Homo sapiens: one gene and its partners. The protein of the gene in region 5 interacts with the protein of the main gene of each other region in a pairwise test. Each region holds a gene or a part of one and is shown on either strand. Other genes may lie near its edges.

Evidence for each region.
Region 1: the proteins of NINL (region 5) and MCM10 interact in a two-hybrid assay, tested with the Homo sapiens proteins (one large-scale study listed by BioGRID and IntAct).
Region 2: the proteins of NINL (region 5) and CC2D2A interact in a two-hybrid assay, tested with the Homo sapiens proteins (one large-scale study listed by BioGRID).
Region 3: the proteins of NINL (region 5) and LRSAM1 interact in a two-hybrid assay, tested with the Homo sapiens proteins (one large-scale study listed by BioGRID and IntAct).
Region 4: the proteins of NINL (region 5) and SH3BP5L interact in a two-hybrid assay, tested with the Homo sapiens proteins (one large-scale study listed by BioGRID and IntAct).
Region 6: the proteins of NINL (region 5) and TNNT1 interact in a two-hybrid assay, tested with the Homo sapiens proteins (one large-scale study listed by BioGRID and IntAct).
Region 7: the proteins of NINL (region 5) and RIBC2 interact in a two-hybrid assay, tested with the Homo sapiens proteins (one large-scale study listed by BioGRID and IntAct).

What each region holds. Positions count from the first base shown.
Region 1 is NC_000010.11:13,196,058-13,199,557, reverse strand, and holds part of MCM10 (protein MCM10 homolog), read right to left. Parts: intron 1,936-3,500; coding exon 1,791-1,935; intron 870-1,790; coding exon 751-869; intron 1-750. UniProt on the Homo sapiens protein: Acts as a replication initiation factor that brings together the MCM2-7 helicase and the DNA polymerase alpha/primase complex in order to initiate DNA replication. Additionally, plays a role in preventing DNA damage during replication.
Region 2 is NC_000004.12:15,539,382-15,542,881, reverse strand, and holds part of CC2D2A (coiled-coil and C2 domain-containing protein 2A), read right to left. Parts: intron 2,046-3,500; coding exon 1,868-2,045; intron 1-1,867. UniProt on the Homo sapiens protein: Component of the tectonic-like complex, a complex localized at the transition zone of primary cilia and acting as a barrier that prevents diffusion of transmembrane proteins between the cilia and plasma membranes.
Region 3 is NC_000009.12:127,496,510-127,500,009, reverse strand, and holds part of LRSAM1 (E3 ubiquitin-protein ligase LRSAM1), read right to left. Parts: intron 2,758-3,500; coding exon 2,676-2,757; intron 1-2,675.
Region 4 is NC_000001.11:248,815,916-248,819,415, forward strand, and holds part of SH3BP5L (SH3 domain-binding protein 5-like), read right to left. Parts: intron 970-3,500; coding exon 907-969; intron 748-906; coding exon 619-747; intron 1-618. UniProt on the Homo sapiens protein: Functions as a guanine nucleotide exchange factor (GEF) for RAB11A.
Region 5 is NC_000020.11:25,575,532-25,579,031, forward strand, and holds part of NINL (ninein-like protein), read right to left. Parts: intron 1-3,500. UniProt on the Homo sapiens protein: Involved in the microtubule organization in interphase cells. Overexpression induces the fragmentation of the Golgi, and causes lysosomes to disperse toward the cell periphery; it also interferes with mitotic spindle assembly.
Region 6 is NC_000019.10:55,135,707-55,139,206, forward strand, and holds part of TNNT1 (troponin T, slow skeletal muscle), read right to left. Parts: intron 2,369-3,500; coding exon 2,255-2,368; intron 1,507-2,254; coding exon 1,397-1,506; intron 1-1,396. UniProt on the Homo sapiens protein: Troponin T is the tropomyosin-binding subunit of troponin, the thin filament regulatory complex which confers calcium-sensitivity to striated muscle actomyosin ATPase activity.
Region 7 is NC_000022.11:45,423,693-45,427,192, reverse strand, and holds part of RIBC2 (RIB43A-like with coiled-coils protein 2), read right to left. Parts: intron 1,246-3,500; coding exon 1,018-1,245; intron 1-1,017. UniProt on the Homo sapiens protein: Microtubule inner protein (MIP) part of the dynein-decorated doublet microtubules (DMTs) in cilia axoneme, which is required for motile cilia beating.

The DNA of each region.
Region 1 (3,500 bases), on a different chromosome or scaffold from region 5:
CAATACAAAATACTTGTTATTAAAAAGGGTCCTTGGGTGTGATGGGGTTAACTACTGATTTAGAGCATTTGAAATGCCAATATAAAAATACTGGAATGGGAAAACTCTTTTTGCATATTGCAAGGCAGAAAATAGCAGCAGTGTAGAGCCATTTAAACATAATTTCACAGCCATAACCAAATGCAAACATTTTTATAATATTGATATCTATTTAAGTCATGTTAAATCAAATGATATTCTTCAGTAAAGAGACAAGGACAAAGCTAAAATTTATTAGAAATTCTCCTGTTCTTCAAAGCAAACTCAAACAAACTGACATATACCTACTTTTAGATTTATGTAAAAAACAGATTCTTGGCTGGGTACGGGCATGGTGGCTCACGCCTGTAATCCCAGCACTTTGGGAGGCCAAGGCTGGAGGATCACTTGAGGTCAGGAGTTAGAGATCAGCCTGGCCAACACGGTGAAACTCTGTCCCTACTAAAAACACAAAAATTTGCTTCGTGTGGTGGCAGGCACCTGTAATCCCAGCTACTTGGGAGGCTGAGGCAGGAGAATCGCTTGAACCTGGGAGGCGGAGCTTGCATTGAGCCGAGATGGCGCCACTGCACTTCAGCCTGGGCCACAGACTGAGACTCTGTCTCAGAAAAACAAAATAAAACAAACAACACATTCTTGGTCCTACAGCTAGCACCTTGGCTTTGAAGGACATCGGACATCAACACCATCCTTGAGCTTTTGGGCTCTTACCTCTTTCAGGATGCCTGTGTGTTTTGATTTTGCTTTTAGGATTTTCTGAAATTCCTCAGATTCCAGATAGGCAAGTTGTTCTCTCCTTTTTTTCCTGGCAGGCTCCAATTCATCCTCAGCTAGGGCACAAGGAACAAACATTAGCAGCGACCAAGAAATTTCAGAAAGCCAGTGCGCCTCATCAACTCTACTCCCTCCCACTCCCTCCTCCTCTGCCTACCAGCCCTTCAAACTTGACCTACCCCCGCTGGTCCCAGCAGGGAAAAGCTCTCAGAGGTGAGCCAAGAAGCTGAGCCTAGAATGTGGGGTGGTGGCAGATTTTACCACTAAATAGAATCTCTTTTTCACCTTCAAATAGGCAGCTGACGATAGTAACAGATAACAACAGTGTAAATAATGTTGACAATTATGTTAAAATGATATTGCCAACTTCAGAGTTTTAAAAATAAAGATATGGCAATTTAAAACAAAGGAATTCTAGTTCTGTCAAAGTAAATCTTTATGCTAATATATATATGTACAAAGATCCAATGAGCAATCCTATTCCCAAGTATTCAAATTGTGCCCAATTTCATTCCAATTTAATGTAATTATAAAAAAATCAGTTCCAGCTCACGTCTGTAATCCCAGCACTTTGGGAGGTCAAGGCGGGCGGATCATGAGGTCAAGAGATCGAGGCCATCCTGGCCAACATGGTGAAACCCCATCTATACTAAAAATACAAAAAATTAGCTGGGCGTGGTGGCGCGCGCTTGTAGTCCCACTTACTCGTGAGGCTGAGGCAGGAGGATCGCTTGAACCCAGGAGGCAGAGGCTGTAGCGAGCCAAGACTGCGCCACTGCACTCTAGCCTGGCAACAGAGCAAGACTCCATGAAAAAAAAAAAAAAAATCAGTTCCACCCATAGAAATTCTATTTAGGTATTCTATATAGGAGGAAATGGAAGTAATTGCTTGATATCTGGGTGCTGGTTTGGGTTTAGAACATATTTCCCTTAGAAACAGTTTCTCTTTCCCACTGTTAACTGTGAAACTGCAGTACCTTGAGAAGAAAACATGGTGTTTTTTTCTACACGTTCCTTCACCTCCAGGATGTCCTGAGGGTCCTTTTGTTTCTTCTTAATGCTGTTTGGGTTTGTTTTTGTAAGAACCTGGCCTTTTGCCCTTAATTTGGTGATAGCAGCTAACTAGAAAAAAGGGAATGAGAGGGAGGTAAAGATCTAAAAGATGACAGAGGCACTTATAGACCTGGATCCCTTTTTTATTAGTAACCAGTGAATTCTGGCTGTTCTCTGACAGAAATTGGCAGAACATATCTTAATTTTACTTAGTATTATTAACACAATTACTAGAATATAATAGCATGGGAGACAGGTCTATATGTTGATGAATAAAATCTTAGTTTATTTAAATATAACAAGTTTGACATCAGCAAGACTGCAGGCTTCCAGATCCATAAAGGAGCCACATCACCATTTTGGAAGTTTTAGAATCAGAGAGAATTAAGATAAAGTTCCAGCCAGCTCTGCCACGGACTAGCTTGTAACCCAAGGAAAATTACTTAATTTTTCAAGTATAAAATGGAAATGGGGCTTGGCATGGTAGCTCATTGTAAACCCAGCACTTTGGGAGGCTGAAGCAGGTGGATTTCTTGAGCTCGGGAGTTTAAAACCAGCCTGAGCAACACAGTGAGACTTCATCTGGGCATGGTACAAAATTAGCTGGGCATGGTAGTGCATGCCTGTAGTCCCAGCTACTCAGGGGACTGAGATGGGAGGATCACCTGAGCCCAGGGAGATGGAGGTTTCAGTGAGCTGTGATTGCACCACTGTACACCAGCCTGGGAGACAGAGTGAGACCCTGTCTCAAAACAAACACACAAAAAAAGAGAAGGAAATGATGATATAGCATTGACCTACCTTTGAAGGTCATGGTTGTATGGATGAAATAAGATAATATCTGCAAAGTATGAATCTTTACATAGCAAATACATTCCTGGCCGGGCGCAGTGGCTCATGCCTGTAATCCCAGCACTTTGGGAGGCTGAGGCAGGTGGATCACTTGAGGTCAGGAGTTCGAAACCAGCCTGGCCAACATGGTGAAACCCTGTCTCTTCTAAAAATACAAAAATTAGTCAGGCATGGTGGTGGGCACCTGTAATCCCAGCAATTCGGGAGGCTGAGGCAAGAGAATTGATTGAACCCAGGAGGCAGAGGATGCAGTGAGGCGAGATCGGACTACTGTATTCCAGCCTGGGTGACAGAGCGAGACTCCATCTCAAAAAATATATATATAAATAAATAAATAAACATAGTAAATACATGGCACACACATATCACAAGTACTGAGTAATATGGACATGTGCCATGGTTATTGTAGGTATTCCTGTTGTTATTATTATAGGTAAGGTTTTGGCATACAGCAAGCTTTGCCCTTCATTTGGCTGCAGCTGCTAACTTAAGGGAAGAGAGAGGCTCGATTGGGGCACTCAGGAAGTGGGCAGGTGGGGCTCTGGGTGCCCTACCCCTACTTCAGCCGCAGCAACTCAGCTTTCACCTGTCATGGGACTGGACTTTTGTGTAAGATTTCTTTTAAAGGATTCTTGGTTAGGCACAGTGGCTCATGCCTGTAGTCCCAGCACTTTGGGAGGCTGAGGTGGGACTGCTTGAGTCCAGGAGTGCAAGACCAGCTTGGGCAGCAAAGGGAGGCCCCCATCTCTACAAAAAATACAAAAATTAGCCAAGGCGTGGTG
Region 2 (3,500 bases), on a different chromosome or scaffold from region 5:
GATCTAGGCGGGGCTTGATATTCAAAATGCTGAACAATACACAGTATTGAACCCACCTCCTGGGTTCATTAGAAGAGCTGCCCACCACAGCTTGGGAACAGGACCCTGGAGGCGCTGGCCTTGGTCAGCCACCCCCTTTAATTGGTCAATTGTGGTAAGGTCCAGGGGGTCCTTGAAGTGGGGCTTATGTGGCCAGGATGGCATCTGGGAAGGTCAGGGCAGCAGCTATTTATCAGTCAGTACAGAGTATGTAAATATTTTATTAATTATACAGCCATGATGGTACCTGCAGACTTTGTCAGTCATACTCACTAGGAATAGGTAGTGGCTACCTGAAGTACTGTATTGAGAAGAGTTCTAAAATTATATTCAGGCTCAGTGGGAAAACACAACAAAAATAGCACCATCAATTATTGCTTTCTGGCAAGGGTGGTGGAGGGGAGTGAGAAATTTCTGCCTAAGTGATGGATGAGGATCTGTGATTTCTGCCTGGGTGGTGGTGGGGAAACAAGGGCATGCATGCCACAAAGCTGCAATCCTAGTTAACAAGCCTGTTAGGATCATAAGAGAGACCTGTTAGCATTGTGGGAGAAGAGTCACCGAAAGAACAAGCAAGACTGAAGACACTGTAATGGGTTAAATAGCATCCTCCACATATTGATGTCCGCCCAGAAACTCAGAATGCGACCTAATTTGGAAATGGGGTCTTTGCAGATATCATTAGTTAAGGATGAAGATAAGATCATATTAGATTAGGGTGGGCCCTAAATCCAATAAGAGTGTTCTTATAAGCGACAAAAGAGGACCCACAGAGAGAGACACAGAGAAGGCTATGTGAAGATGGAAGCAGAGATTAGAGTTACGCTAACACAAACCAAGGAACTCTAAGTGCCAGGAGGAGCTGGAAGAGGCAGGGAAAGATACTCCTCTAGAGCTTTTGGAGGGAGTATGGCCCTACTGACGCCTTGATTTCAGACTTTAGGCCTCCAGAACTGTGAGTAAACACATTTCTGTTGTTTTGAAGCCACCAAGTTAGTGGTTCCTTGTTATAGTTTAGTTTCCCCAGGAAACTAAAATAGACTCAAATAAATATATTGCTAATGGTGGGATTTAGGCTAGTGAGGAGATTTATTAATTTTTGGGGGATCCTAGCACCTGTATCTTTCCCACATCATAACCTCCCATGATTGCGGCATAATTGATTTCTCTGTTATATTACACTAGAGTCCTTGTAGAGGGTGATGTTGAAATATGTCTTCAATGAATGAGCTGGAGATCTCCCTGTGCCCCACCCCCTTCAGCACCCCTCTCCCATCTCAAGGCAGACACTCCAGAGCACTGTGGCCAGAGTTATTCTGCCAGCATTTTCAGTAGGTGAGTTGGGGAACAGATCTCTTTCTTCCAAGACTTTAAGAACAGATGTGCCAAGGAAGAGGCTTGAGACTCTATCGAGACATATTTATAACCAATGGATGATTTAAAATCATCTCAAAGCTGTAATGAACAAAAAATTATTGGGGCAGTAACTATAATAATAATAATAATTATTATTACTATTGTTTTGAGACAGAGTCACACTCTGTCGCCTAGGCTGGAGTACAGTGGCATGATCTCAGCTCAATGCAACCTCCACCTCCTGGGTTCAAGAGATTCTCCTGCCTCAGCCTCCCGAGTAGCTGGGATTACAGGCACCCGCCAGCACACTTGGCTAATTTTTTTTTTTTGTATTTACAGTAGAGATGTGGTTTTGCCATGTTGGCCAGGCTGGTCTCGAACTCCTGGCCTTAAGTGATCTGCCCACCTTGGCCTCCCAAAGTACAGGCATGAGCCACAGTGCCCGGCCAGTAACTATAATTAAAATGTGTACCTGAAGTGTTAAACTCTCCGGCCAGTTGACTATTTGCAAATTGAAAATCTGCCCAAAGTGAACTCGGAAGTCTGCTCCTAGTGGCCGACTGACTGTCCTGGACACCTCCTTGTTGTTGAACAGCACTTTTAAGTACACTGAGCGCTTCTTTACATCCTCCCTTCTCGAGACCTCCGCTCTGCAAAAGGAGACCATTCACAGGTGGAGTTAGTAATAATTTACTAAGATCACCAAAATATATGATAAATAAGAACTGAACAGAACAAGACACACTGCAGGCAACTCTCCCAATCATGTCAGCCCTCATTTAACCAGAGGAGCCACAGGTCTTGCAGAGTAGTATGGAATTTATGGAGAAGCCATTAACAGACACTGAAAAGGGCACAGAGGATTTAAGAACTAGAGTCCATTCATTGTTGTGCTACAGTCTCCTCAGGTTTTTCAGGCAAGCTTTACATTTGTGTCCCAAAGTTTTAAATTCACATATTCCTTGTTAAATGGAATAAATTCAAGACAAAGGGGATAATAATGATTTATATTTGAGTAAGAAGTTTTATTCTAAAAATACAGCAGCATATTGTAGCAGTTAGATCGAGTTCATTTTTCCAAGATACCAAGTTTTTCTCAACATTTTCAGACAGTAAGTGAATGTTCAATGGATGCAGAGTATTAATAAATATTCCTTATTTTTAAAGATAATTTGAATCAGAAAGTTAAAAAAAAAAACAACCTCCCATTGGTCTTTAATTTTATTGTACATATGTGTATAGACATCCACCAAAAAATGCCAGTTATTGGTTAAGTCAATAGCAATTCAAGCTAATTGAGGAAAGGAAAAGGTTAGGGCATCAAAATTTGAAACAAGCTTAGGTTTTTTTTGGGGGAGGGGTGGTAGTTTATTAAAAATTGTTCCATTGTGGAAAATATATATAACATAACGTAATGTTTATCACTTTAACCATTTTTAAGTGTATGATTCAGTGGCATTACATACAATTACTATGTTGTCTAACCATCACCACTATCCACCTTCAGAGCTTCTTCATCATTCCAAACAGAAATTCTCTAGTAATTAAAGGGGGTGGTAGTTTTAACTTTTTACATGTCTATAATTTAGACTTATTCTAGATGAAATAGCTCAAATTACTTCAGCATTTTTTTAATAAAGGACACTTCACAGCAAATTTGCAAGAAGTATCCAAGACACTGAAGACTTAGACTCCACTCATAAAAGATTACCAAATCAAGCCCAAATTTTCCTTTTAGAAAGCATGCTGTGTCATCACATATTTTGAACATTCATGTCAAAATTAAAATTATAGGGTATGGTACTTGTGCCTTGAAAATTGCTTACTTAGTGCAGGGGAATAGTTTATGTATAATATCTTAATATGTGAAGTTGAGGGAACACATGAAAATGCACAAAAAGCTATAATTTTAAAATAAATCAATCATTAGAATAAATCAATCATTAGAACATTAGCAGAAGTTTGAAACCAAGACTGTGAGAAGTCTTATAATGACATCCTAATTAACTCCCACGTTTTAATGAACTCGGAGGCTGACTGACTTTATTTGAATTCTCATTTTTCACGTTGGGATATTGAAGATTCCAGTGTACAACAGTCCCTGT
Region 3 (3,500 bases), on a different chromosome or scaffold from region 5:
TGATCACGGTTCACTTTATTCTACGGCTTGAATTACAAGCATTATTTTTTATAACAGGAAAAACTAAAGTTTTTCTTTTTTTTTTTGAGATGGAGTCTCACTCTTGCCAGGCTGGAGTGCAGTGTGGTGCGATCTCGGCTCACTGCAACCTCCGCCTCCTGGATTCAAGTGATTCTCCTGCCTCAGCCTCTCCTCTTGCGTATCTGGGACTATAGGCACACGCCACTGTGCCCAGCTAATTTTAGTAGAGACAGGGTTTCACCATGTTAGCCAGGATGGTCTCCATCTCCTGACCTCGTGATCTGCCCGCCTCGGCTTCCCAAAGTGCTGGGATTACAGGCGTGAGGCACCGCACCCGGCCACAACTAAAGATTTTTTAAAGGCTGTTACAACACTAGACCCTCTAAGGCTATCAGTGCTTCCCCCCAAACCACCATTTCGAGGGGGCATTCATATATATATATATATATATTTTTTTTTAGACAGGGTCTTGCTCTGTCACCCAGGCTGGAGTATAGTATCATGATCACAGCTCACTGCAGCCTCAACCTCCCAGGCTCAAGCAATCCTCCTACCTCAGCCTCCAGAGTAGCTGGGATGACGCCTTGCTAATTTTTTTTAATTTTTTTGTTTTGTTTTTGAGACAGTCCCACTCTTTTCCAGGCTGGAGTGCAGGGGCACAATCATGGCTCACTGCAGCCTCGACCTCCCAAGCTCAAGCGATCCTCCCACCTTTGCCCCCCGAGTAGCTGGAACTAAGGTGTGCACCACCACACCCAGCTAATTTTATTTTATTTTTTGTAGAGAAGGGGTCTCCCTATGTCGCCCAGGCTGGTCTCAAACTCCTGGGCTTGAGTGATCCTCCCACGTAGGCCTCCCAAAGTGTGGGATTACAGCCATGAGCCACTGCACCCAGCTTCTATATTTGTTTTTTTCTTTTTCTTTTTTTTTTTTGAGACAGAGTTTCACTTGTCACCCAGGCTGGAATGCAATGGCATGATCTTGGCTCACTGTAACTTCCGCCTCCTGGGTTCAAGCAATTCTGCTGCCTCAGCCTCCTGAGTCTGGGACTACAGGTGCACGCCACCACGCCTGGCTAATTTTTGTATTTTTAGTAGAGACAGGGTTTCACCATGTTGGCCAGGCTGGTCTCGAACTCCTGACCTCAGGTGATCCGCCCACCTCAGCCTCCCAAAGTGCTGGGATTACAGGTGTGAGCCACCACACCTGGCCCCAGCCTCTATATTTGATATAAAGTATACCGATTTCTGGGAGTAATAAGAGAATTGCTAGGAAATTGAGGGTTTCCCTTGCCTTCTGGAACTGAGGACGGATCCCACCATGGCCCCTTCCCCTGCCAATGGGCACAAGCAGGAAGCCCTGAGCAGCCCAGGCATCCGTTTTCTGCATGTGGCCACAGATCCTCATGGCCAATCTGCTATGGAGAGGAAGAACCTGCTTGTTTGCTCCAGGGATGACTCAAACAGTGAGAAGCAGCCGGTCCTGAGGACTGCTGGGCTCAGAGGCACTGCACCCCACTCAGGGTGAAGGGCACCTGTTTGTTTGTGGCTCCTGCTCACGTGAGGCTTGTCTGCCGGGGGTGACCCCAACTCCTGATGGAAAACTCTTCTGATCTCCAGTCTGAGAGCTGGGGGGTCAGGAACATCCAGAAGGGGCCTATTCTGCACATGACTTGATATCAAAAAGCTAAGAAGTTTAATGACTTTTTGGGGGTTGAGTCAGTGTCCCTGGAGTAAAAGTAGCTGCAAAACTGGTGCCTGAAGCTATCCTGGGGCTGCAGTCAGCCCAGCCCCCTGGAGCCCCGGGGCCTCCCCACTGAGGTCCAGTCCAGAACTCCACCTTCGCCTCAGCTCCTCCGCTTCTTCCTTGGCTCTGGCTAAAAATGCCCTGTCCAGAGCCTCGCCCAGCCCAGCAGCACAAGACTGCCCTCTCCTTCACCCCTGCTCTGGCCCCTCACCTCTTCCCCAGGGAGGCAGGCAAGCCCAGTGGCTCCACCATCTGCCAGCAATGGGACCTGATGGGGGACATGCTAACCTCTTTGCGCTTCAGTTTCCCCATCTTGAAAATGAGGACCACAACAGTGCCTCCTCACGGGATGGATCCGGAGGTTCCTCAACGTGGTTCATGCACAGCGGTGGGCAGGTGCCGGGCTCCCAGATCATGCTCAGCACATGGCAGACCCCAGACTCCACACCTGCCCCTTCTCCCCACGGGCCTCACGACCTGCCTTTGCCCCTTCACAGCCTGTTGTGGACATCTCTCCATGTCCACAGGCATGCCTCAGGCCCAGCATTGGGTATACTGCAGGCCCTGGGGACGGGCTATTTCTCCCTCTAGTCCAAAGTCCCTCAGTGTGTGGATCCCAGCGTCTGTAGGGTGGACTGAGGGAAGGCTATGGGACAGGGAGCTGGGAGGGCCCCTCCACTGCTACGTGGAGGTCTCCTGTTCTCCCAATTTGGTGGCCCATTTTTCCCATCTGTAAAATGGGCTCACTGATCCCTAAGCCTGCTCCTTGGGAGGAAACCTTACCGACCAGCAGAGGCTAGAACCAGCCCTCAGGAGTCATCCTGAAATGTAAGCAAATGACTGTCCCCACCAGAGCCCACACATACGGCTGGAGCCCTGCCTGGAAGAGGCTGGAGCTGTGCTTGTACCTGGCTGGATCCTGGCTGCATCCAGCAGTTCCTGGACTCTCCGGAGGATCTCGTGCTGCAGGCCAGCTTCTGAGACGCCCACCTGTGACAGTTCAAGGAAGTGCAGACTGTGGCCTGGGCGGGAGCCCGCTAAATGGTGTGAGCCACGTGGCACAGGCCCAGGCTCACAGGACCGTCGACACCTCCTGCTGGAAATGTGGAAGCCTTCCGGGGCCTGGCGGGGCCCACGGTCAGGATGAGGCAGTGCGGCACCATAGCTGTGAGGGCAACCTCCCCAGGCCTCAGCCCAACAATCAGTGTGGCAGGGGTTGGGGGGAAACTGAGGCCCAAAGGGAAACCAGCACTAGCAACAGCTATGGTTTAGCAACTGCTTCCCGGTGCCAGGCTTCACCTGCACACCTCAGCCACTTCCCCACCAGGTGGGGGAGGAGAGAAGCCTTGGAGGCCAAGCCACTAAGCAGCAGCAGCACACGAGCCCCACAGTCCCTCAGCCTCCAGAGCCTGAGCGGCATGGCCTTGTGACCCTCAGTGCCATCCAGTCCTCTTGGACCCTGGTGTCTGCATCTGTCCAGGGAGGGGCAGGAGAGTCTCATGAAAAAGAACACGAACTCTGGGGCCACACTGCTTGGGGTGGAGACCTCACTCTGCTGTGTGACCTTGGGCCAAGTTATTGCCTTACTGGGTCTCAACTGAAAGATGATGATAATGATATGTACCCTGCTGGGCTGTCGGGAGAATTCAGTGAGTTCGAATACAAAAAGTGCTTAAAATGGTGCCCCGCACGTGCAGGTGCTACAAAGTTAGCTGGCACAGCGATGAGTATTC
Region 4 (3,500 bases), on a different chromosome or scaffold from region 5:
CCTCCTCTCGGGAACAAACTCTTCTTCCAAGGCAGTTGTCTGTATCTGTCACCTCACCATACAGGATGACAACAAATCCCAGGAAACAAAATGCATGAAACGTGCATGGTAGGATTTTGGGTGATTTTTGTTTCCTTCTTGTTTTATTATGTTTTTCCAATGGTGAACACATATTATTTGTTAAAAGTAATTTGTTACAGAAAAAAGGGGTGTGGGATGGGGAAAAGAGTGAGGAGTAAGCAAAGAAAAGATTCAGAAGAGAGACATGAACCAAAGGGAAGAGGAAATGGGCGCAGATGAAAACAACAGGATGTTAGAACTGACATATCTGATATACCCTAAAGCCTGATTCCTGATACACAGAAGGCACTTAAACATTAGCAGGGCTGAACTAAATATTCTCCCACAGCCACCCTCACCATTTTATAGACCATAAGCCCAGAGCCCACGTGGTAAAGGAACCTCCTGAGCCCACAGAGCTGGTTCCGACCAGCCAGGTCTAGCCCAGGGCTCTGCCCTCAGGGTCTGGTGTTTTGTCTCTCACTCCATATAGAGACAGAAGAATCCAGGGCCAGGCTCAGCACGTAGCCTTCCTCAAACGTGGTCAGCCAGCCATACCTCCTTAGCCAGCCGCCGAGCCTCATAGTAGGGCCGGGCTTTCTCGATGCAGCTCCCCAAGTGGGAACCCTGTGTATTCAGTTTCCTCGCCGACTCCTGTAGGATCCTCCGATAGGTGGTCCTGGCCTCCTGGAAAGGAACAAGGCAGAGGAAAGGCACATGTTTGGGTCCCAGCCCCTCTTGTTTCTCAGACACACCCCTCCCACCGCCACTGCCTCAATCTGGGAAAGAGACAGATGGAGATACTTCCAAGGACCAGCCCAAGCACATAAGGAAAAGGACACTCACATCCAGCTGTAGTTCCACCTGGTTGATCTCCTCGCTGGCCTGGTTCAGGTGCTCCAACTCCTCCTGCCACAGAGAGGGGTGGCAAATTAGTGCAGTGGAAGGAAGTAGCCTTGAATGAACCATGCAAGGCAGGAGCAACACAGAGAGAGAGAGCCCCACTTGCCCAGGGAAATGAGGTGAGACACTCAGGAAAGGAAAGAAGATACGGAGATTGCCAAAAGCTTTCTTGTCTATCAGGGACCTGATACATACAATCTCACGTAATCCTCACAACTCTACCTTGTATTGGGTAGTAAAACCCCAGTTTCAAGGATGAAGAAATTGAGGTTTGGAGAATGCAACACTAATATGCACAACGTGAAGTTGTGGTGAGCCCTCACTCTCTCCGTGAGATTGCAACACTTCCTCAAACTGAGGGAGTCTCCTTGGACCTGAAGGCTCGCTCTCTGCGAGAGGATGGCCACCTGGGCCAGGGCAGGGCCACTCAGTCAGCACATGTTTACTGCACACTTATCACCTCTCAGGACCGTGAGACCTGAGAATTCAGGACATAGAGGTGGCAGCCTGTAAGGAAACCCAGCAAGTCAGCAGCAGGTCCTGGGCAGTATGTGCAGCCTTGTGAGGGGTGGGTGTGGGTGCTCTCTGGGTAGCAAGGTCACCTAATTGGGCAGCAGAAGGTCAGGGTAGGATGCCTGGAACACTTGCTCAGCAGCTGGAAGGACTTCATAGACACAAAAGTGCCAGTGAATGACTAGGCAAGGTGGCTCACGCCTGTAATCCCAGCACTTTGGGAGGCCGAGGCAGGCAGATCACCTGAGGTCAGGAGTTTGAGACCAGCCTGGGCAACATGGTGAAACCCTGTCTCTACTAGAAATACAAAAATTAGCCGGGTGTGGCAGCGTGCACCTATAGTCCCAGCTACTTGGGAGGCTGAGGCAGGAGAATCACTTGAACCTGGGAGGCAGAGGCTGCAGTGAGCCAAGATCACACTACTGCACTCCAGCCTGGGCAACATAGCGAGACTCTGTCTCAAAAAAATAAAGTGCCAGTGAAGAACAAAGGGCCAAGGAACCAAAGGGGAGCAGGTACCCTGGGCAGACAAGTTGGCAGGTGAGAAGGTCAGTAAGGCTACAGCACTATGGGAGGTAGTACCAGGACTTTCTGCAATGGCAAAAGGGTCTCTCAGAGCCTGGTGCCAATGTAACGAAAGCCTGGGGGAGCCAGGGAGACAAAAGTGGAGGCTGGGACAGGCATGGTGGCTCACACCTGTAATCCCAGCACTTTGGGAGGCAGAGGTGGGCAGATCACTTGAGGCCAGGAGTTCAAGACCGGCCTGGCCAACATGGTGAAGCCCTGTCTCTAGCAAAAACACAAAAATTAGCTGGGCGTGGTGGCACACATCTATAATCCCAGCTACTTGGGAGGCCGAGGCACGAAAATGGCTTGAACCCGGGGGGCAGGGATTGCAGTAAGCCCAGATCGTGCCACTGCACTCCAGCCTAGGCGACACAGTGAGACTCCATCACAAAAACAAAAAACAAACAAAAAAAAAAAGGTGGAGGCTGTCTATAGTATTCCAGGTGGCAGAGGAGAGGGCAGATCCCAAGGCAACGCAGGACACAGAATCACAGGGGCTTGGTGGATGACTAAGGTCAAGATCAGGAAAGTGTATAGAGTCCAAGAAGCCTTTTGGCCTGCTTGGGCAATGGGTGACCATGACCGCAGGTCCCTATAGAGCAGATCCTGTGGGAGGGAGGGAGAGTCCTGGGGAAAAGTTGCTGGACAAGCTGGTTTGAGTGCCTTCCTGGCCCCTGGAAGGACTGGAGAGAGAAGCAATAGAACCATCCAGGGCTTTCCATGAAATGGAAGAGAGCTGAGAGGGGTACTGGCCTCAAGTCATCCTCCCTTGCCCGAGAAAACACAAAAGTTCCCAGAGCCCCTGGTGAGCTAAGGACACTACTGAGGAGCAGTGCTGGTCTGTGCCAAGGGCCTTGTGCCAGGAAATACCTGGTGCCTAGCTATAGGATTTGCCTTCACCAGCCCCTGCTGTCTCTGGACAGGAGGCTGGACAGGCCAGAGAGACCCAGCCCAGCATGTGCCTGCTGCCCAGACCCATGACTTGCACTTGGCAGTGACACCACAATCACTTCCCACTCATATGGCCGTGATGTTGGCCCCCACTCACCTCATTCGGGCCTTTCAGCAACCCAGTGAGGGAGTCAGGCTGACATGCACAATCTTCCTTTTAGTCCCTTCTACCTCTTCTATCCTCCCCCCATCCCCTGCCTTGATCCTGAAAAGATCTGGGTCAGCAGGTAAGAATACAGGAAATGGTTTGACATGTTAATTACAGTAACAGGAAGAACACAAAGGTAGAAACCTGTAATGGAACGAGGAATGAGGATATGAAAATGCACACACCTACCTACAACAGTGTAGACCCTGCCTAAGGAGGGCCACAAATCTGGCTCTAAACTAGGGATGTCCAATCTTTTTGCTTCCCTGGGACACACTGGAAGAAGAACTGTCCTGGGCCACACATAAAATACACTAACACTAACTACAGCTGATGAGCTTAAAAAAAAAAAAAAAAA
Region 5 (3,500 bases):
CATGAGGTCAGGAATTCGAGACCAGCTCGGCCAACATGGTGAAACCCCGTCTCTACTAAAAAGTAAAAAATTAGCTGGGCATGGTGGCGTGGGCCTGTAATCCCAGTTACTCAGGAGGCTGAGGCAGGAGAATTGTTGGAACCCAGGAGGCAAAGGTTGCAGTGAGCCGAGATCGCGCCATCCAGCCTGGGCGACAGAGCAAGTACTCAGTCTCAAAAAAAACACAAAACAACAAAAAAAAAAACTTGTAAGAATAGTACAAAAAATTCTCCAATACTCCCTCACTCGGCTGGCTTCACCACCTGTTTCCACTTTTCCCCTTTACCACAACCATTTTGTCATTTTCTCTCCCTCACTTCCTCCCTCCCTCCATATCATCTATCTACCCCTGCTCCTCTCCTTCTCCATTTGAAATCGGGTATCAGACTTTGTGCCCCTGTATCCCTAAATAGTTCAAAATGTATTCACTAAGCTCAAGGAGACAGTCACAGTACAACAAACTAGGGAAATTTGACATTTATACAATCCACCATTCAGATCAAATTCTGTCCATGGTGCCAACAATGTCCTTTACAGCTATCTTTTTCACCCCAGTCCAGTTTCCAATTCAGAGACAAGCACTGTACACGGTTTTCCTGTCCCTTTAAACCAGACCATTTTCTCAGTCTCTGTTTCTGAACTTTGAAGTCTTTGGAGTAGACACAGGCAGGGCGTTATGTAGAATGTCCCAGAGTCTGTCTGGTGTCTGCACAATTAGATTCAAGGGTGGCAGGAACACCTGGGTCAGGTGTGTCCTTGGCACATCTCATGGGGGGCACAGATGTCTCATAACTGGTGACAGTAACTGCAATCGCTTGGTTAGCATGGTGACTGCAGCAGGGTAGTCACCTTTATGTGAGTTTGAATTATGAGAAGTTTATTCATTTTTATTTTATTTTACTTTTTTGAGACAAGATCTTGCTCTGTTACCCAGGCTGGAGTGCGGTGGTGCATCCCCACTCACTGTAGCCTCCACTTCCCGTGCTCAAGTGATCCTCCTACCTCAGCTTCTCAAGTAGCTTGAACCACAGGCACATGCCACTGTGCCTAGCTAATTTTTCATTTTTTTTTGGTAGAGATGGGGTTTCAGTACATTGCCCAGGTTGGTCTCGAACTCCTGAACTCAAGAGATCCTCTCACCTCAGCCTCCCAAAGTTCTGGGATTACATGCATGTGCCACCGTGCCAGCCTGAGAATTTTAAGTGGTGAAAGTCTACAATGATAAGAGTCTTACTTTATGTGCACAGTTGGAAATAATAAAAATTCAGTAAGAATTTAAAATGTATCAAGAATTGCTTCGCTTTAAAGCTGTGCAACAGTGTACACTATCAAGTACAGTTTAAAACTTTTGCCACAGAGCAAGGCCTGGCTGGTCTTGAACTATGCAGGCTGTGGACTGTGTCCACTTCAGACCTGCCCCTGCAAACATCCTGCTTGACACAGTTTCCTGAGGAACCGTACCAGAAATCAGTACAGGCCATTAATGTAGATTGTGGGGTTCCGAAATTGGGCATCCACGTTTCTGTCCCTACCCAGAGTTGGGGAAAATCTCAGCCTGTCACTTACCTTCATTTGGGGCCTTGGAGAGCAGTGACAACGTTGCCTGAAGCAGGGAGCTAACTGGCCGGGCTGCAGCCCGCCCTCTGGAGTCCCTGCTGGTCATCCCAGGACCGTGGGTACTCAGTTTTACTCACTGGTCCACATGGAGACACGCGTCCCCAAGTCTGTTCAAGGCCCTGCCGCCTCTCCTGTGTTGGAGACCTGGCACGCTACCCACTTCTGCCTGCCTGGTTTTGTCCTCCTCCCGAGCATGGCTGGAAGTCCCAAGGCCACGTGGCCGGACAGTCCAGCACATCCCTCCTCAGGTCACTTGAGTACAGGACAGGCAGAGGCCTTCCAGATACAAGGAGCTCTCCCTGGGGTTGGGACAACCTACTCAAAATCTGCACCGAGCAGACTCTCCCTGTTGATTTTTAAATAATTAATAGCTGTTTACTACATTCCTATGCCCTTGAAACGAAAACTCCAAGTTAGTGAATATTGCACTATATTGACTGATGCTGGTTCTCATGTTTAGGGTCTGACACCACCCATGACTCTAAGGGGAACCTGGAGGTCCTCTTTGTGAATAGAGCTCCTGTGAGGTCCATCCTGGCGGGGGAGCCCACCACCCCTCTTTGTGTGGGGCCAGCAGAAGCTCGGGGCTTACTACTGTCCTAGTCCCAGGAACAGACTCATTTTTCTGAAATATTTTCTTTTCTTTTCTTTTTTTTTTTTTTGAGATGGAGTTTCACTCTCGTTGCCCAGGCTGGAATGCAATGGCGCGATCTCGGCTCACTGCAATCTCCACCTCGCAGGTTCAAGAGATTCTCCTGCCTCAGCCTATGGAGTAGCTGGGATTACAGGCATGTACCACCACACCTGGCTAATTTTGTATTTTTAGTAGAGATGGGGTTTTTCCACGTTGGTCAGGCTGGTCTTGAACTCTCAACCTCAGGTGATCTGCCTGCCTCGGCCTCCCAAAGTGCTGGGATTACAGGCGTGATTTTTTTTTTTTTTAGACGGAATCTCACTCTGGCGCCCATGGAGTGCAGTAGCGCAATCTTGGCTCACTGCAACCTCCGCCTCCCAGGATCAAGCGATTCTTCCATGTCAGCCTCTGGCGTAGCTGGGATTACAGGTGTGCCCCACCACACCTGGCTAATTTTTCTATTTTTGGTAGAGACGGGGATTCACCATGTTGGTCAGGCTGGTCTCAAATTCCTGACCTCAAGTGATCTGCCCGCCTCAATCTCCCAAAGTGCTGCGATTACAGGTATAAGCCACCTCGCCCGGCCCTGAAATGTTATTTCCATGGGCGCACACACGCACACAAAGCCACAAAAAGCAAAGCACAATTCATTAAGTCCTTAATACTCTTGCTTAAAAATGGAATTTGATTAGCTGGGCGCAGTGGTTCATACCTGTAATCCCAGCACTTTGGGAGGCTGAGGCAGGTGGATCATGAGGTCAGGAGACCGAGACCATCCTGGCTAACACGGTGAAACCCCGTCTCTACTAAAAATAGAAAAAATTAGCCGGGCATGGTGGCGGGCGCATGTAGTCCCAGCTACTCAGGAGGCTGAGGCAGGAGAATGGCGTGAACCTGGGAGGTGGAGCTTGCAGTGAGCGGAGATCGCCCACTACCACTCTAGCCTGGGTGACAGAGCGAGACTCCATCTCCAAAAAAAAAAAAAAAAAAAGGAATTTGATCAAGCAGTAAAGCTCAAGCAAAATTAAATTAAATTAAATTAAATGGAGTCATGCACATGCCTGTAGTCCCAGCTACTTGGGAGGCTGAGGTGGGAGAATGCTTGAACCCAGGAGTTCAAGTCAAGCCAGGCAACACAGTGAAACCCTGTCTCTAAAACATAAATAAATAAAATAAAAATGGGACTTTGAGCTAACAGTCCTCATACTGC
Region 6 (3,500 bases), on a different chromosome or scaffold from region 5:
AGTAGAGATGGGATTTCATCATATTGGTCAGGCTGGTCTCCTGACCTCAGGTGATCTGCCCGCCTCAGCCTCCCAAAGTGCTGGGATTACAGGTGTGAGCCGCCGCGCCCGCCCGGCCAACAATACTTTACATGAACCATGTGCACAGGAAGGAGGGCCCACAGCGCCCCCCAGAGGGCTTCCAGGAGCCTGCTGTGCACATCCTTTCCCGTCTCCACACTCAGTGTCCCCACACGGGTAGTTTGAAAGGAGCAAGGTGGAAGTATTTACGCCCTGGGAATGGGCATGTGCTAAATCTAGACATTTTGCCCCCTGGAGAGCAGCTGTTAAACATTTACCATGAAGCCACTTTACAGCACACTAGCAAAGAGTACGGACTATTGCACCAGACTGCCGGGTTCAAATCCCAGCTCTTCCACTTGCTAGCTGTGCAACCCTGGAAGGGTTACTTAACCTCTCTGTGCCTCAGGTTCCTCACTATTAACACAAGGATAATAATAGTATCTACCTCACAGGGTTGTAAACCCTCCACAGGAAGCTGCTGCTGTAATTATTATTTTTTTAAGGATGGGGTCTCACTACATTGCCCAGGCTGGTCTCCAACTCCTGGCCTCAAGCAATCCTCCCATCTTAGCCTCCCAAAGTGCTGGAATTACAGGCATGAGCCACCGGGCCCAGCCTGTAATTATTATTACTATCTCACTGCCCTTTCACAGCTCTGTGAGGTCAATTTTGTGATTATATCCTTGTTCTGCCAATGAGGAATGGGAGCCCCAGAGAAGTCAGATAACGTGCGCAAGATCACAAAGTAGCCGGCAAAGCTGGCACTGAGCCCTGGGCAGGGGCTTTCGGTGCAAGCGGCAAACCCGATCACGGCGCCACTCTGGGGTGGTTGAAGTTTCTGAGCCACAGCCCAGGCCAGAGAACATGGAGAAACAGGCGGGCTCCTGAAGGCAAGCCCCCACCAGCCTGCCGTCCTGTAGCTTATCATGAGAGGCAGGCTGTCTTGGCTATAGATGCGAGGGACTCAGCTGGAAAATTCTCACCCGCATTCCTGGCTTGAATTTAGGTAAAAGGCACAGCCCATCCTGAGCTCCAAGGCACATCACGGAGTTAACAAAATCTCCTAAACTTGGGGGAGGGAAGTCATCTTGTCTGGCTTCCTTGGTAACACCTGTCAGATGCTACAGGCCACGGCAGCCACGAAAAGTGGGTTCAGTGACATGTTTCACAAAGAAGGCAGCAGAGGCCCAGAGAGGGGAAGCCACTTGCCCAAAGTCACATAGCACTGGAGCTGAGACCCGGAGTATCTGCCCACCCAGATCTGGGTGTGAGCTCCTTTATCCCCCTGTCTCACACCCAGGCCCCTACACCCCGAGCCCCCCACAGCACCTACCGGAGCTGTTCCTCCCCCATGTAGTCAATGTCCAGAGGCTTCTTACGCTCGGAGAGGATGCGCACCTTCATCTCCCGCCCCGTCTGCCGCTTACCACGCTTCTGTTCTGCCTGAGGGTGGGGGAGGCGGAACAGTAAACTGGGGGCCACATCCCACAGAGCACTGCCGTGTCGGGACCCACACGTCGGATCCCACAGACCATTTCCATGTTGGGACCACAGGTCTGCACCCCAGGCCCATCTCCTTCAGACCTAGGAGTCCAGCCCCACTCCCTCCTCCCTCAGATTCAGGAGGAGTCCAGACCCCCAGTCCCTTCTCTTAGACTGAGTCCAAGCCCCAGACCCTCTCGCATTAGGAACCAGAAGTCTGGCCCCCAGCCCCTCCTCCCTCAGCCCAGGAGTCCAGACCCCAGCCCCTCCTCCCTCAGACCCAGGATTGCAGGCCCCGAGCCCCTCCTCCCTCAGACCCAGGAGTGCAGGCCCCCAGCCCCTCCTCCCTCAGACCCAGGAGTCCAGGCCCCCAGCCCCTCCTCTCAGACTGAGTCCAAGCCCCAGACCCTCTCGCATTAGGAACCAGAAGTCTGGCCCCCAGCCCCTCCTCCCTCAGACCCAGGCGTCCAGGCCCTCAGCCCCTCCTCCCTCAGCCCAGGAGTCCAGGACCCCAGCCCCTCCTCCCTCAGACCCAGGCGTCCAGACCCCAGCTCCTCCTCCCTCAGACCCAGGAGTTCAGGGCCCAGCCCCTCCTCCCTCAGACCCAGGAATCCAGGCCTCAGCCCCTCCTCCGTTAGGAACCAGAGGTCTGGCCCCCAGCCCCTGCCCCCTCAGAACTCAGACCTCAGGCTCCTGCAGGCTGACTCACCTTGACCAGGTAGCCGCCAAAATGGGCCCCCATGTTGGACAGCACCTTCTTTTTCTTGGCATCATCCTCTGCCCGCTTCTTGGCCTCTTCCTCTTCCTTCCTCATCTTCTCCTCCTGTGGGAAGTAAGGGGTTAACCTCATGGACTCCCCTGTAGGACTGAGGGAGGAGGGCCCTGGGATGTGGAACTGGGGCACAGGGATCAGCAGACCCAGTGCCGCAGAGGCTGCTGGGACATCAGAACCAGCAGAAACGCAGGGGTACCCACTCCCGGCCCTGCCACGTCTCCCCGTGTGACCACCTACAAGTCCCTTCCCCTCTGTTTTTTTTTTTTTTTGAGACGGACTCTCGCTCTGTTGCTCAGGCTGGAGTGCAGTGGTGCGATCTTGGCTCACTGCAACCTCCGCCTCCCGGGTTTAAGCAATTCTCCAGCCTCAGCCTCCTGAGTAGCTGGGATTACAGGCACCCGCCACCGCGCCCAACTAATTTTTGTATTTTTAGTGGAGACGCGGTTTCACCATGTTGGCCAGGCTGGTCTCAAACTACTGACCTCAAGTGATCCGCCTGCCTCGGCCTCCCGGAGTGCTGGGATTACAGGCGTGAGCCACCGCACCTGGCCCCCTTCTCTGGGTCTTAATATCCTCCCAGAAAAAATCGAAATGAAGGAGAAGAAGAAATGCCTGCTTTTTCTGCATGTCTCCACCCTGAAATAGCCGATAGTGAACTCTGCTGTACGACCTCACTCCAGATGCTCAGCCTGTCTGGGCCACAGTCGCCCTTAGTCTCAGGATATGAGAATGTCTGTTTTGAGGGGGTCAAGGGAAGTAACTGGTGATAAGACCAGGGACTGGGGAGATTAAAGAGGCTGATGGCCTTGAGCCTGAGGAAGGGGTTCTGGAATATTGAGCGAAGGCATTACGACATTCGAGAAACTCTTCATTGAATGTTCCAGAAACAGTGGTTTGTCCAGGCTGAGCCCCGTCTCCTTATGGTGGACATGAGGCTTTTTGTACACCCAGCACTCCGTACCTGAATTAGTTTCCTTTCTGTTTTTGAGATGGAGTCTCGCTCTGTCACTCAGGCTGGAGTGCAGTGGTGCAATCTCTGCTCTGTTCACTGCAACCCCCACCTCCTGGGTTCAAGTGATTCTCCTGCCTCGGCCTCCCAAGTAACTGGGATTACAGACATGTGCCACCATTACCAGCTAATTTTTGTATTTTTAGTACAAACAGGGTTTCACCATGTTGG
Region 7 (3,500 bases), on a different chromosome or scaffold from region 5:
CTTGCAAGAGAGAAAGTTCTATTTTGTTTAAGATGCTGTTATGTGTGGTTTTCTGCCACATTCAGGCAAATGTAATCCTAATAGATACAGATATCTAATGGACTTTGCACACTTGACGTATCCAAAATTGTAACTCTGATTTCCACCCCTCCCCACCCACCAACCTGCTCCTCCCACCACCTTCCCCATCTCTGGAAATGCCAATTCCATCCCTCTAGTTGCTCAGGCCACAGGACCTAGAGTCGCCTTTAACTCCTCTCTTTCACACGTCCCCACCCAATCATGCATCCAATCCTGTCGACTCTACCTTCAAAACAGATCCAGAATCTGACCATTGCTCAGCACCCCCACTGCCTGCCCCGTGGTCCCAGCCAGCATCACCTCTCGCTGTGAACACTGCAAAGGCCTTCCTGGAGATCTCCTTCCTTCCCCCTCAGCCCCTAGTGTCTGCCCTCAATCCAGGGGGATCACGCTGGGGATCCTGTTCAACCTAAGTCAGATCCTGTCACTTCTCTGTCCAAAACCCTGCAGAGTTCCCCGTCTCCGTCACAGAAGAAGCCAAAGTCCTCCCCAGTGGACTGCCAGGACCTCGACCGTCTGCCTCTGAGGCCTCCGTACCTGCCCCTCTCCTCACTCCACTCTAGTCACCAGGCTCCACGCCCTTCTCTGAGCAGGTCTGGCAGGGTCCTGCCTCAAGGCCTTTGCCCTTGCAGCTCACCCTGCCCGGTCGCCCTTTTCCCAGGTAGACACATGGCTCCCTCCCTACCCTCTTTTGGGTCTTTGCTTCAATGTCTTCCCATTCTACTGTCCTCTATCTTGGCACTCCTACTCCTAATGCCACATCATACGGGTGTGACACTATCTGGCTCTTGTCTCCCACCGACTAGAAGGGAAACTCCTTGAGGGCAGGTGCTAGGGCAGAGCACAAGGCCTGCTACAACTACATTTGTGCCTGGAAGGCAGTGGGAGCAAAGAGCCTGGCTCTATGGGCTCTGGAAAAAGGGGCGGGGCAGTCACCAGCTTCTCCTGGATTTGCTGCTTCTGGACTAGGCGGATCTGCTCCAGCTGCTCCTGGGTCATGCCCTTCCAGCGGTCAGGGACCACGCGGTGGGGCCCGAAGGAGCTGGCTGCCTGCTGCGGGTTCTCGGAGAGCAGGTCCCCACGCAGGAGGTTGGTGATCTCGGCCAAGTTGTCCTCTTGTTCTTGCTTTTTCTCTTGCTTTTTCCTTTCCACTGACTCGATGGCCTAAGCAGGTGAAGACATTAAAGAAGATGGTCCGAGTGACCCCAGGGGCATTCTGACACCCAGGCCAGCAAATCTCACTGGGGGCCCTCGAGGGGAGGATATGCTAAGGGCAGCAGGAGTCGGGTGGAGGGGAGACTTGTCAGGCACGGATGTGGGTGGGTCCTTGAACCCCTGGCTGCCTGCGCACTGCTGGGCGGGTGGGCTGGACTCGGGGGATCACCACCTGTTGGGTGTATGCATAAGAGCTCCGGGTCTTGCACCAACTTACCAAGGCAGGGAACTCCCTCCTTGGATTAGGCCGACACCCCGCGTGGGCCTGGTCCCACCCAAGGCAGGGCTCTATGCCCCTGGCAACCCTTGGACATCTGTGGGCTGCAAAGAACGCTCAACAGAGTGATTGACAACAGTGGTAGAAAATGCACTGTCACTTCAGTGGTCCTGAGCTGCAGCCCCCAGTACAAAGTAATTCCAGGTCTCATTTCTGTTTGATTCCCTGGGGGTTCCCTGGCTATGTGGCCTATACCAAGTCACCTCCCCTCTCTGGGCTGCAGTCATTTCTCTGTAAAGTCAGGAGATGGCTTAGGAGACATGTACTTGGGTTTACAGTTGTCCTCAGTAACACATGGACAGGGCAGTTTGCAAGGAGCCGGCCTCCCACATGTGCTCACCAGAGGCCAGCTTGATTGAGTCACACAGTACAAGCTTTGTAGTTAGACAGGCCCAACTTCAATACCGGACTTGCCACTGAGTACTCCCTAAGGAAGTCAGCTCATCCTTCCAAGCCCCTACACCCGTTTTTTTTTGTTTGTTTGTTTGTTTGTTTTTTTGAGACGGAGTCTCGCTCTGTCACCCAGGCTGGAGTGCAGTGGCACAATCTCGGCTCACTGCAACCTCTGCCTCCCAGGTTCAAGTGATTCAACACTGTTCTTACTTTGGGAGGCCAAAGTGGGCAAATCACAAGGTCAGGAGTTCAAGACCAGCCTGGCCAACATGGTGAAACCCCATCTTTACTAAAAATAGAAAAATTAGCTGGGCGTGGTGGTAGAGGCCTGTAATCCCAGCTACTTGGGAGGCTGAGGCAGGAGAATGGTGTGAACCCGGGAGGCAGAGCTTGTAGTGAGCCAAGATCGCGCCACTACACACTCCAGGCTGGGCAAGAGAACAAGACTCCACCTCAAAAAAAAAAAAAAAAAAGAAAAAAGAAATGTGAGCAGAGGTGGCAGTACTGCTCCTGGGAGGAAGCCTGCGGGGACTAGCCACATTCCTTCCCTCCTCCTGCAGGGATCCTCTGGCTGGCGGTCGCTCCATCCCAGGACCTGGGCTCCAAAGTGAGGATGCCAAGGAACAGGCCTCACAGCCTGTCCATGGCGGGCAGGGAGCATGCATGGAACATCAACTTTCTGTTTAAGCCACTGAGACTGCTGCTTCTTATCCCAGCAAGGGTTAGCACATTCTGACCGACACAGGAGGGTGTTGTCGCTTCCTCATTCTGCAGATGATCAAATGGACGCAGTGGGTGGCCTGCCCAAGGCTGCAGGGCAGAGCCTGGTCTGCACCCCGTGTGGTCGGGCTCCAGAGCCTGCGTGCCACACCCTGATGCCACAATGCCTCTCTGACGAAATGAGCCCCGACCCAAGAACTGGAGGCCCTCACGTGTGTCCTTCCTGTTGAACTGGACCGGCCTGCTTGGGCTTTGGATTAACATCCCAGGTTAATTAAAAAGCCTAGTTGTAGTTAGTAGCAGAGCTGCAGAAGCCAGAGGGCGGCTTTTCCCAGTGCAGGAGTGTTTGCAATGGTGCTGCCTCGTGGCATCCACGTGAGGAGCCGGGGGTCTGAGAAAACCAGGCAGGCTGTGGATGCCCATTAAACATCTTCTAGAATATATGAATGAATAAATTGATGAATGAGACAATAGGGTTTAGCAAAAGCCACTCCAATGCCCAGCAGGAAGGGCTCAATAAACATTGGTTGAATTGATGAATGAATGAGTGAATTATCATCATCATCATCACCATCGCTTCCATAAATGAATGAGCAGATCACCAGCCAACAGTGGACTAATTGTCAAGGGCCCCACATCCTGCCATTCACTTGCAGTGGGGACTGGAGCAAACAGCCTCCCCTCTTTGGTCGCCCTCTGTAAAATGAAGGGCAGGGATGGATGATCTCTAAGACCTTTGCAGCTCACTGGGTGGTGAGCTCGGACTTCAGGTGTCTTGCTTTGCCTTTTGGTCCTCCCCAGCCCCCGCAGTTGG